Homo sapiens: one gene and its partners. The protein of the gene in region 4 purifies or fractionates together with the protein of the main gene of each other region. This does not show direct contact. Each region holds a gene or a part of one and is shown on either strand. Other genes may lie near its edges.

Evidence for each region. Proteins that work in one complex are often made in the same cells at the same time.
Region 1: the proteins of TIGD6 (region 4) and CHAF1A purify together in Homo sapiens (affinity purification with mass spectrometry; one large-scale study listed by BioGRID and IntAct). This does not show direct contact.
Region 2: the proteins of TIGD6 (region 4) and UBE2V2 purify together in Homo sapiens (affinity purification with mass spectrometry; one large-scale study listed by BioGRID and IntAct). This does not show direct contact.
Region 3: the proteins of TIGD6 (region 4) and MRPL13 purify together in Homo sapiens (affinity purification with mass spectrometry; one large-scale study listed by BioGRID and IntAct). This does not show direct contact.

The regions. Positions count from the first base shown.
Region 1 is NC_000019.10:4,430,140-4,433,639, reverse strand, and holds part of CHAF1A (chromatin assembly factor 1 subunit A), read right to left. Parts: intron 3,092-3,500; coding exon 2,999-3,091; intron 1,689-2,998; coding exon 1,433-1,688; intron 571-1,432; coding exon 101-570; intron 1-100. UniProt on the Homo sapiens protein: Acts as a component of the histone chaperone complex chromatin assembly factor 1 (CAF-1), which assembles histone octamers onto DNA during replication and repair.
Region 2 is NC_000008.11:48,014,931-48,018,430, forward strand, and holds part of UBE2V2 (ubiquitin-conjugating enzyme E2 variant 2), read left to right. Parts: intron 1-3,500. UniProt on the Homo sapiens protein: Has no ubiquitin ligase activity on its own. The UBE2V2/UBE2N heterodimer catalyzes the synthesis of non-canonical poly-ubiquitin chains that are linked through 'Lys-63'. This type of poly-ubiquitination does not lead to protein degradation by the proteasome.
Region 3 is NC_000008.11:120,407,151-120,410,650, forward strand, and holds part of MRPL13 (large ribosomal subunit protein uL13m), read right to left. Parts: intron 1-3,500.
Region 4 is NC_000005.10:149,995,137-149,997,654, forward strand, and holds part of TIGD6 (tigger transposable element-derived protein 6), read right to left. Parts: intron 1,294-2,518; 5' UTR 1,213-1,293; coding exon 1-1,212.

The sequences.
Region 1 (3,500 bases), on a different chromosome or scaffold from region 4:
GACAGAGCAGGACTCCATCTCGAAAAAAAAACAAAACAACAAAAAACAAACAAAAAAAGAAAAGCCCTGCAGAGGCCCCCACCTGCCCACCCCACCTCACCTGGCCGTCGTGCCTGCGCTTCTTCATGAATTGGGTGATGCACATGCTGCCCGCTGACTTCCTCTTCAGCGAGATGGGAGTGCCCTGGCTGGGCCCCGTGGAGGGGACGCTGCCACTGTCCTCTTTGGGGGCCGAGGGCACCGATGTCACATAGCTCCACTGGCACGGCACGGGCAGGTGCTCCTGCTGGAAGCTCTGTAGCACCTGCGGGTGCACGTACCAGCACATCCTGAAGTCAGGCCGCTTCTCATACACTGAGTTCTCGGAAATGAGCCGCTTGAGCCGGGACTTAGAGGGGATGGCGGCATCCTCGCTGGGGGTGGGGGTGTGCAGGTAGGTGGTGGAGGGGCTCCGCGGGCTGCCGGTGTGGTTGCTGAGCAGTCCCCGGCGGCAGTGCTCCTGGAACTCCCGGATGATGACCTTGCTCCCGTTCACATTGCCGTGCAGGAGCGGCAGCAGCTGGGCCAGGACTGGCAGGAGGGAACATGGGTGGGCATGAGGCTTGGGGAGCCACCCATCACCACAGGCCAAAAAACAAAACACATACACAAGCTCATTGCCACCGAGGCTTGGGGCATGGCCAGCTTCGGGGATAGGTGGCCTCATGAGGGCGGGTGTAAGACAGGGTAGCACCTACGCACCTGCCCAGAAGTGAGCCTTGGCCGGGCACGTGTGTTGCCAGGGCTGACTTCAAATGCCTGCTGTTCCTACCCAAATGACTGCCCTGCTCTCCTTGTGTGCCATGGTCCCTCCCCAGTTTTTTGAGTTTTTTTTTTTTTTTAGACAGGGTCTTGCTCTGTCACCCAGGCTGGAGTGCAGTGGCAGGATCATGGCTCACTGTGGTCTGAAACTCCTAGGCTCAAGCAATCCTCCCACCTCAGCCTCTTGAGTAGCTGGGATCACAGGTGCGTGATACCACACCCAGGTAATTTTGCATTTTCTGCAGAGATGGGGTTTTGCCATGTTGCCCAGGCTGGTGTCGAAGCACTAGGCTCAAGCGATCCTCCCACCTTGGCCTCCCAAAGTGCTGGCATCACAGGCATGAGGCACTGTGCCCGGCCCCTCCCTGGCTTTTGAGAAAGCACAGCCCCCACTCCAGCACTCTCTGTGCCTGTGTCCTGGTTGATAAAACAAGCCAATTAAGGGACCTGCCTCGTCCTGCTGCTAGGGACATCATTGAACGTACGGACATGTACAGGAAAAGGGCTGGCCTCTGTTATTTGTGGAAAGAACATTTGCATCACGGACCCACTAGCCTGTGACTCTTGCCCTCAGCCCTGGAATTAGCTGGGCCCAGGAACAGGTGGGTGGCCTGGCCCCGCCCACACTCACTCTGCTCGTCTCTCCTCTCCCGCTTGGAGGCCTTGGGCGTCTGCTCCTCCTGGGCCGGCAGGGTCTCCAGGAAGCAGGCTGCGAACTGCTGCAGTACCTTCAGGTCATCGCCTGCGCAGTCTCTGTCAGCCGCCCACACGCAGCCGATCTTCACAGGTTGCAGGACGCGAAAGCGCTTCCCCTTAGCCAGGAACTCGTCCCACTCCTTGGCCTTCAGTTTCTGGCGGACCTTATGGTTCTCAGGGTCGGCACACTCCTTGTGGTTTAGAAAGCAGAAGTTTATTTGGGGTTCTTGCTCCCCTATGCCCGGGCACTCTTTTGAGGAACCAGTCCCCAGCCAGCTGGGGAGCAAGAGGAAAGGACAGGGGCACAAAACTTCCCACAGTGTCAGGGCCAGGGCAGAGCACACCATGCGCTGGCTGCCCCTCTTCCAGATGGAATAATTCACACCTGGTCTCCTTTGGGAGCGTCACAGATATTTCTGAACTCACCCATGAGGCCTCTTTTAACACCCCTCTGAATTTTCTGGTGAATGTGTGATCGTGGAGCCGTTTAACAGGGTTGGGTGTCTACCCACATGGCCCAGGCATCTGGCAGACACATGCAGGGCCTGAGACCACTCTCTGACTGACAGTTCAGGCCTCGGTGGTCAGATATGCACAAGGAATGCCTAGGCCTCCAGTCCAACCATGAGACAGTCCCACCAAATCCCCACTTCCCAAACGACAGGCCTTCAAAACAAAACAGGACCAAAAACAACTTGCTTGAAAGCAAGTTCCTGCCGGGCTCGGTGGCTCATGCCTGTAATCCCAGCACTCTGGGAGGCCGAGGCGGGTGGATCACTGGAGGTCAGGAGTTCAAGACCAGCCTGGCCAACATAATGAACTCCCGTCTCTACTAAAAATACAAAAATTAGCCAGGTGTGGTGGCACACGCCTGTAGTCCCAGCTACTTGGGAGGCCGAGGCAGGAGAATTGCTTGAACCCGGGAGGCAGAGGTTGCAGTGAGCCAACACCGGGCCATTGCACTCCAGCCTGGGTAACAGAATGAGAATCCGTCTCAAGAAAAAAAAAAAAAAAGACAGTTCCACAACCTTATGGAATCTGGAAAGGGGTGGCAGGCAGGTTCGCCTGCAGAGACGTGGGCAATCTTCTGGAGAGATAGGGAAGTTCTGTTTTATTTCGGGCGGTGGTTGCCCACATTCACTTGATTGTTACGTCATCAAACTCAACACTTACAATGCACATGTCTTGCTGCATGCTGACTGTATGTCAGCTCGGGTGGTTTCCAGCCTTCTAACCCACAGACCATGGCCACGCTCCCTCACCAGGGTGTCTGCTCCTATGGCTCCCCTCGCTTGCAAGCTCCTCCTACGTCTGCCACCCTCCCAGGTAATACCAAGTTCAGGCCCAGCTGTTCCCACGAGTGAGCTTGCGTGCTTGGAATGCAGTCCAAATCTCGTATGGTTGGGCTGGGACCCCCGTCACCCTCCCAGGTCAGGCCACTGAGCACCAGTCCAGAAATGAACTTTTGCTGAGCCGGTGACCTCCCCCTTCACTCCCTCACCTCTGTCACACCTTCGTCCTCAGACAGGTACCCATGGGGCACAAAGAAACCATCGTCCTCATCTTCATCCTCTCCCATGTCGTCATCATCATCCTCAAAAGGAGAAAAAAAAAAGAGTTCATCAGATAGAAAAGCAGAGTGTGTGCCTTATTAAAAACAAAGTAGGCCAGGCGCAGTGGCTCACACCTCTAATCCCAGCACTTTGGGAGGCTGAGGTGGGCGGATCATCTGAAGTCAGGAGTTTGAGACCAGCCTGGCCAACATGGTAAAACTCTGTCTCTACTAAAAATACAAATCTTGGCTGGGCATGGTGGCACGCACCTATAATCCCAGCTACTAGGGAGGCTGGGGCAGGACTATCACTTGAGCCTGGGAGGCAGAGGTTGCAGTGAGCCGAAATCGCGCCACTGCACTCCAGCCTGAGTGATAGAGTGAGACTCCATCTTAAAGAAACAAAAAAATGTAAAGCTGTGAACATCTGCTTTGCATGGCCTCCCGACAG
Region 2 (3,500 bases), on a different chromosome or scaffold from region 4:
TCCTGGCTACTGGGGAGACTGAAGCAGTAGAATGGCATGAACCCGGGAGGCGGAGCTTGCAGTGAGCTGAGATTGTGCCACTGCACTCCAGCCCGAGTGACAGAGCGAGACTCCATCTCCAAAAAAAAAAAAAAAAAAAAATAAGGCTTGTCAAGAGTAGCTTGAGGCTGGGTGCAGTGGCTTCCACCTGTAGTCCCAGCACTTTGGGAGGTCGAGGTGGGTGGATTACTAGAGCCTAGGAGTTCAAGACCAGCCTGGGCAATACAAGAAAATCCCATCTCTACAAAAAATGCAAAAATTAGCTGGGTGTGGTGATGTGCACCTGCAGTCCCAGCTACTTGGGAGGCTGAGGTAGAGTATGGGTTGAGCCTGGGAGGTTGAGGCTGCAGTGAGCTGTGATCGTGTCACTGCACTCCTGCCTGGGCGACAGAGCAAGACACTGTGTCAAAAAAAAAATTAATTTGAACAATGCTTGCTAATGTTTTGAAGTACATTATCTGTACATTGTGGAATGGTTAAATCTAGCTAATTACCAAATACATTATCTCACATAGTTATCATTTTTGTGGTGAGAATACTTAATAGCTACTGAGTATTTTTCAAGAATACAGTATGTTGTTAACTAATCACCATGCTATACAGTAGTGCTCTTAAACTTGTTCCTCCTGACTGTAATTACGTATCCTTTGTCTAACATCTTCCCAATCCCCACCCCCGTAACCCCAACCATCCTAACCTCTGGTAACCACCATCTCCTGTCTACTTCTGTGAGATCAATTTTGACTCCATATATGAGTGAGATAATATGTATTTGTCTTTCTGTGCCTGTGTTATTTCAGTTAACATAATGTTCTCCAGGTTCATCCATGTTGTTGGAAATGAGAGAATTTCCTTCTTTTTTATGATTGGAACAGTGTCCCACTGTATACGTATACCACATGTTCTTTATCCATTTGTCTGTGTGGTTTTTTTTTTTTTTTTTTTTGAGACGGAGTCTCACTCTGTCACCCAGGCTGGAGTGCAGTGGCGCGTTCTCAGCTCACTGCAACCTCCACCTCCTGGGTTCAAGCAATTCTCCTGCCTCAGGCTCCCTAGTAGCTGGGATTACTGGCACCCGCCGCCAAGCCCGGCTAATTTTTGTATTTTAGTAGAGATGGGGTTTCACCATATTGGCCAGGTTGGTCTCAAACTCCTGACCTCAAGCAATCCATCTGCCTCGGCCTCCCAAAGTATGGGGATTACAGGCGTGAGCCACCGCGCTCAGCCTATCCATTTGTTGGTTGATGGATACTTAGGTTGATTCTATATCTTGCATATTTTGAGTAGTGCTGCAATAAAATGGGAGTGCAGGCCTCTCTTTGACATACTGATTTTATTTTCTTTGGCTATATATGCAGTAGCAGGATTACTGGATCATACGGTAGCTCTGTTTTTAGGTTTTTGAGGAACTCCATACTCTTCTTTCTCCATATGGTTGTACTAATTCACATTCCCACCAACAGCATGCTTAGATTATCCTTTATCACCACATACTCACCAACACTTGTTATCTGTCATCTTTTTTTTTTTGAGACGGAGTTTGGCTCTTGTTGCCCAGGCTGGAGTGCAATGGCATGATCTCGGCTCATTGCAACCTCCACCTCCTGGGTTCAAGCAATTCTCCTGCCTCAGCCTCCCGAGTAGCTGGGATTACAGCCACGCACCACCATGCCTGGCTAATTTTGTATTTTTATTAGAGACGGGGTTTCTCCATGTTGGTGAGGCTGCTCTCGAACTCCCAACCTCAGGTGATCTTCCCACCTTGGCCTCCCAAGGTACTGGGATTACAGGCGTGAGCCGCCGTGCCCAGCCTTTTTTTTTTTTTTTTTTTAATTGAGACAGAGTCTCGCTCTGTCGCCTAGGCTGGAGTGCAGTGGCGAGATGTCAGTTGACTGCAACCTCCACCTCCAGGTTCAAGCGATTCTCCTGTCTTAGCCTCCCGAGTAGCTGGGATTACAGGCACCCGCCACCATGCCTGGCTAATTTTCATATTGTTAGTAGAGACATGATTTCACCATGTTGGCCAGGCTAGGCTGGTCTCAAACGCCCGACCTCAGGTGATCCACCTGCCTTGGCCTCCCAAAGTGCTGGGATTACAGGCGTGAGCCACTGCGCTTGGCCTCATCTTTCATCCTTTTGATTATAGCCATTTTAATGGGAGTGAGGTGATACCTCATGTGGGTTTTTTTTTGCATTTCTTTGATGATTAGTGATGTTGAGAATTTTTTTCATATACCTCTTGGCCATTTGTATGTCTTTTGAGAAATGTCTATTCAGATCTTTTACCCATTTTTACATGAGGTTATTTTCTTGGTATTGAATGGAGTTCCTTATATATTTTGGTTATTAACCCCTTATCAGATATATAGTTTACGAGTATAGTGAACCATTCTGTATGTTCTCTCTCTCTTTTTTTTTTTTTTGGTGGAGTTTCGCTCTTGTTGCCCAGGCTGGAGTGCAATGGCACGATCTCAGCTCACTGCAAGCTCTGCCTCCTGGGTTCAAGGGATTCTCCTGCTTCAGCCTCCTAAGTAGCTGGGATTACAGGCATGTGCCACCATGCACTGCTAATTTTGTATTTTTAGTAGAGACGGGATTTCTCCATGTTGGTCAGGCTGGTAATAAACTCCCGACCTCAGGTGGTCTGCCTGCCTCAGCCTCCCAAAGTGCTAGGATTACAGGCGAGAGCCACCGCGCCTGCCAGTTCTCTCTTTATTGTTTCCTTTGCAGTGCAGGAGATTTTTAGTTTTATGTGATCCAAATTGTCTGTTTTTGCTTTTGTTGAGTGTGCTTTTGAGGTCATATCCTCCAAAAATCATTGCCCAGACCAATGCCATTGACTTTTCTTCCTGTTTTCTAGTAGTTTCATAGATTGCCTTTTTTTTTTTTTTTTTCCTGAGACAGTCTCAACCTGTCACCCAGGCTGGAGTGCAGTGGCATAGTCACGGCTCGCTGCAGCCTCAACTTCCCAGGCTCTCACCTCAGCCTCCCGAGTAGCTGGGACTACAGGTGCACGCCACCATACCTGGCTAATGTTTTGTATTTTTAGTAGAGATGGGGTTTCGCCATGTTGGCCAGGCTGGTCTCGAACTCCTGACCTCAGGTGATCCACACGCCTCGGCCTCCCAAAGTGCTGGGATTACAGGTGTGAGCCACCATGCCCAGCTGCACAATGCCCAATTTTGCCACTTCTGTTCAACATAATACTGGAAGTCCTAGAAAGAGCAATAAGACAAGAGAAAGAAATACAAGGCATCTTAATTGGAAAAGAAGTTAAACTGTTCCTGTTTGCAGAAGACATATGATGTCAGTGTTTATTGTTATAAAAACTTCTGTCTTAAAACTGCTTTTGCTGTATTCCATAGGCTTTGTATGCTGTGTGTTTCAGTTTTCATTTTTTTCAATAAACTTCCTAATTTGTTTTTTAATATCTTCATTGACCTATTGGTTGTTCAAGAGCA
Region 3 (3,500 bases), on a different chromosome or scaffold from region 4:
CAAAAAAGCAGATTCAAATTCAGAATTCAGAAATGACAGAAGTCAAAACATTTATATTATCTTGAAAATGGAGTAATTTCTCACCTCTTAACATTAGGAAAAAACTTTTCGGAGATTTTAGTTTGTATTATAAAATGGTAGGAAAAATTTACTTGGTTGTGAATGAAACAAAACATCAAGTTATGAAGCACATGGTTTATGCTACATTAAGATAAGTGACACTTAACATTATTGGTCCTACTTCCCAGCACTTTGGGAGGCCGAGGTGGGCAGATCATGAGGTCAAGAGATCGAGACCATCCTGGCCAACATGGTGAAACCCAGTCTCTACAAAAAATACAAAAAATTAGCTGGGCGTGGTGGCGGGCTCCTGTAATCCCAGCTACTTGGGAGGATGAGGCAGGAGAATTGCTTGAACCCGGGAGGCAGAGGTTGCAGTGAGCCGAGATCGCGCCATTTCACCACCCCAGCCTGGGCAAAAAGAGCAAAACTCCATCTAAAACAAAACAAAACAAAACAAAACAAAACAAAACAAAACAAAACAAAAAATACATTATTGGTCCTACTAAGAATAATTTATTTTTCAAGTAAAAAAATTCCCTATTTCAGCTGTAAGTCCAGGAAATTGAGTGTAGCTTAAGTGTAATAAATCTCAAAAAAATTTTTTTCTTCAATAGGTTTTATGTCTTTTCACTCTTACATAATATTTCTTAGTATAATGCTTATTCTATGAAACATTTAAAAGACTAAAATAATATTTGGATGGTGAACTAATCTTAAAAGCGATAAAAGGTCAGTTTGAGTTTTAAGTCACTTCCATTGAATGAATGAAATTATTTAGAATAAACCATTTCAGGAAATCTGGTGACATCACATATTCTTTAAAGATGCTAGCTATACTGAGAGGTAAAGTAATGGTGCCTTAATACTAATTTTCCTAGGCACTGTAGCACCATCCTGATCCGAAAAAGCTCAACATACATTTAAATAAAATGTTTTTTTAAATCCTTTCTTGATTATTCTTTTTTGTTTCTTCCCTTTCAGATCCAGACCTACAGATCAACATACTTTTAAATAAACTAAACCTGTAAGATTGTTGAAAATTTTTGCCAAATGATTTTTTCAATTAAAATGAACAGAAATTGCCATTACATTCAACTGCACTTTTTTAGTCAAAATCTGTATCAGCTAGGACTTATAAATGATTTGGGTTTTGTTGTTTAAATAGAGACTACTTTTTTATTTTACTAGCCAGTCCTGATCTATTCACATCCAAAAGAACAGTACAGCTTAGAATGCCTAATTTGAGCAAAACCCAGGACTGGAAAGACTGAAGTCTATCATTGAAGTCAATGCTGAACTGGTTGAAATAGGTAGGAAAGTTGGAAAGTAACCTTAGTCCACAAGTCCAGCTAGTAACTGCTGACTGTGAAGAGCAGCAAATTAAGTTAAATTGTGTGGAGAAAATGCCACATGACTAGACTAGAAGAAAATTATGGAAAATCTTAAAGCTGTCCAGATCCCAGCAACTTATGGATTAGAAAAGGTAAAAATCCTTCTACATTGTCTTTAAGTCTCTGATCTGAAGCATGTTTTATAAAGGCATAGGTAAAAATAATCTTTTTCTGAGTATTAAGTAAATCTGAAAATGGGTAGTTTTTAGGATTAACAGCTTTCATATCAGAGAATATGCACTAAGCTTAAATCCGTGCTCTCTTCTAGAGCTATAGACTGAAGAGGATGCTCACCAATGCAGTGCTAATGTTCCCAGCATCTGGAATCCAGCTTTTCTTTTACAGAGCTGAATGGATCACATATTGAACTCCCTAATCCTCATCCTACTTTCGAAGAGACAGTTCTGCATCAGTAATGGTTGTCCTCATACTTCCTTGTCTTCATCCTTACCATCCATCTCTCCTTTGCAGGCACATTTCTAATAGCACACTCTAGAGTACTGAAACACCAGGAACACAGGTTTCTGTTATAAAAACCTGTGTTCAAGCATGTATTGATGCTGAAGCTTTCCATGGTTAGCTTCTCTACAAAGGTGAGAGTTTTGCTTAAAACAAGCATTTCTTACTGAATTAACATGTAAGGAAAAATAATGCAAAGCAATTCAAGTTGAATTTTTTCACATACGTAGTTTTCCTTAGGAAAAGCTCTCCTGCATCATTTTGCAAAACTTGAAAATAAAGTTTAAAATGATCCAAGTTTTATTTGTAGACTACATTTTGAAACATTTCCCTTACAATGAGCATGATTAATTTCCATGATTATTGGGGTTGTGAAATGTGTTGGCAAAACTGCAATAATCATGTAACAATTGATAGTATTAAAATAAATTGACCATTTTAAAGCTACAATCTTAAGCAACAGAATTGTGAAGAAAAGATAGTGCTATTTTTTTCCTTTAAAGAAAAAAGAAAAAAAATCTAAGTATAAACCCCACAGTCACCATTTGCACATTGCAAATACATATCTGCTTTGTACAGTCAAGAAATATAAAATAAACTTCCTAACATATTTTCACAAAATTTATGTATCCATGATTTATGTAAAATATACTAATACACCAAGAATATCCACTAACTTAAGAAGTGAGATGAATGGGCAATAGTACCCATAGTATATATAAAATGGCTTTTAGTTTTAAAAAAGTATAGTTTTGTCATAAATATCAATTTCATTCCTTATCTCCTACCATAGCTTAAAAATGACAATAACTAATGACTGAACAACAACTAGCAAAAGAAAACCTAATGTATGCTGAAACTAGGCCTGAAAGAATATAATCTTTGAAGATGATTTAAAATAATTTAAATAAAATCCCAACAATGCTAGCTTTTAATTAAGATTAAAGCAATTTTGTTAATCATCTACTGGGTTCAAAGCTCTTTGATAATTGTTTCTGCTGCTCAGAAGCTTTTAGTCTCTAATAGAAAAGTTAATAAACTTATATTTAACCAAATATTAATAATAGTTCAAATTATAAGATGTACATTCTAATATTATGAACATATTTTAAGTTTTATTACTAGGGCAGCAAACACCAGAGCAAGCTATTTTTGTGGCTATATACTTGTGGCGCAATGCAGGTACATTTGTTTCAGTCAAGTCTCTGCAGATTCACCATCAGATTTATCTTAAACAAATTCCAGTTACTACATTCCAAAGGAAAATTATATTCTTGGCTTAGCTATGTTGGGTAGAACAAAAGCATATCTTAAGCAAGGTCCTCTCCAAAAGGAGAAAAAAATTTTTTTCTAATAAAGGCAATCCTTTAATAATAAAAACCTCATGTTCCATGAATTGAACTGCATGGCATATCAAATATTTTAATTCTAATTCTAAAGTATATAATATTTAATAGAACTTTATAAAATGGCATAGTCCAATAACTAAAATAGCATAGTCCAATAATGTAGACACTAGCCATATGAAGGTAGCGTAATTTTATTCACTAACACGTAATTTTATTTACTAAAATTACATCAAATAAA
Region 4 (2,518 bases):
TGTGTGCCACAACTTTTCAATGGCAATGTCTGGTTCACTGGCTGCTGATTCTGTGTCACATTCTGCAAATTCCATAGGGACGATGCCTGCCTTCTGCCAACATTTCACCACTGTGGATGGCTTGACTGACCACCACGCTGCAGCAATCATGTCGATGGCCTGCTTGATGTCCACCTCTTCTTGATCCTCACTGCTGTTGAGCTTGAGGAGGATCTGTTTTAGAAGGTGGCTCTGGTACAGTACTTTCATGGTGTGAATTATGCCAAGATTCAGTGGCTGCAGGACAGCAGTACAGTTGGAGGGCAGATACCCAACCTGAATCCTTTCCAAGTGTGGAAGCATGTTATGAGCAGAGCAGTTGTCTATGAGCAAGAGGATCCGGCGTTCCGCCCTCTTCATCCTGGCATCCACTTGCATCAGCCACTCATTAAACAGATCCCTTGTCATCCAAGCCCACTGGTTGGCTCGGTAATCACAAGGGAGGGAATGAATGTTCTTGAGGCAGTGTGGGCTGGCTGACCTACCAACAATCAATGGTCTCATTTTTTCAGTCCCCGAGGCATTGCAACAAAAGAGTGCTGTCAACCGCTGCTTTGCTTTCTTGCCCCCTCTACAGTGGTCTCCTTTAGCAGCAAGTGTGTGCTGGGGAAGCAACTGGAAAAACACTCCTGTCTCATCAGCATTAAAGATATCATCTGGGCTGTAGTCAGCAATCAGTTTTATAATTTCCCCTGCATGCCACTCATTAATCTTATCTATTCCTAGACCATTCATTAACCTGTCACTATCTTCTCTACAGACTGCTTTCAAAGCAATTCCGTGGCGATCTCTAAATCTGTTCAGCCAGCCCACACTTGCTTGAAAATTGTCATAGCCAAGCATGTTGGCCAAGTTTAGTGCTTTTTTCCGAATGACAGAACCAGTCACAAGAATGTTTTTGGCATGGATTTCTTGAAACCAAGCAAAAACAGCCTTATCAATGTCATCATAAAGAGCGCTCCTCATCCTTTTCCGCTGGGGTCCCACGGATGCCTCCCGCACCTTTTCTTCAAATTTGGTGCGATCCTTTAAGAATGTAGATAAAGTAGAGGGAGTGATACCAAATTCTTTTGCCACATCACCTTTCCTCTTGCCTGAGTCTACAGCTCCCACAACTTTCATTTTCTCCTCCAGAGAGAACTGCCGACGCTTCTTGTTCCCCTTGTTTGCCATTTCCAGGGAATGAGGGCTGGCCACAACTAACAGGACTGTCTGGTTCCTCCTCGCGGCTTGCTTTGCCCCAAGTGTGGAAAGCTGAGAAGACAAAATGGAGTACCTATCAGGAAACAATGGATTTCCCCTAAAAGATGGTTCAGGATTTTTACAAATTGTATTAGGAAAGGACAATTTACAGTCAAAGTAAAGAAAAGATAGGATTCATGCTACTGACTTTTTGTAGAGGCTACTTGTAAAGACTCAGAATGTTTGAAACAGAAGTGATCTTATCTAGCTTACTTAAACATTCTGAACCTCCATAAAAATGGGAATAACAATGTTTGCTCTGCCTACCATGAGAACAGATTGAAATAACAGGCAGTGAAAGAGCTTGGCAAATAGCATTGCACTGTATACATTCCGAGTTATTCTCCAGCTTCTTTGATGGACACAGAAACTGGGGCCCTGGGAAGGGGCCTACCCGGGTTCATGCAGCTTAGATTTCTTAACTCAGATTACTATTTCTGCCAGGCCATGGTCCTGCTTGAAATTCCACCAAAGTGAGATCTTCAAAGCTCTACCACCATCTGGCCTGGAAAGATTTTTACTGTGGGAAGATGTTTCTGGTAGCCATACATTCATTTTATATTTACAGGTGCCAAGCTTTAAGGGTAGAGTAATGAACAAAAGAGTCAAGGTCCCTGTTCTTATGAAATATAAAATGTGGTGGGAAATATAAAAAGTAAACAGATAATTACAGAGGGTGATATGTGCTATAAAGGAAATAAAGACTATGACAAAGAATAAAAGAGGAAGATCTACTTATTATACAAAGGGTGGTCAGGGATGTCCTCACTAAGATGGCACTGAAGCTGAGATCTCCAAGAATATGGGGAAAGGGCTGTCCAGCAAAAGACATAGCATCAGCAAAACCTCAAAAGCAAAAATAGGCCGGGCGCTGTGGCTCATGACTGTAATCCCAGCACTTTGGGAGGCCAAGGCGGCCAGACCAGCCTGGCCAACATGGCGAAACTCCGATTCTACTAAAAATACAAAAATTAGCCGGGCGTGGTGGCGGGTGCCTGTAATCCCAGCTACTTGGGATGCTAAGGCAGGAGAATCACTTGAACCCAGGAGGCGGAGGTTGCAGTGAGCTGAGATCGTACATTTGCGTTCTAGCCTGGGCAACAAGAGCAAGACTCTGTCTCAAAAACAACAACAACAACAAAAAACAAAAAAAACACACACACCGAAAATAGCTTGAGGTATTCAGGGAACTGAAATATTTGCATGAATCCAAGTATATGACAAAGGTGGGTGGCCA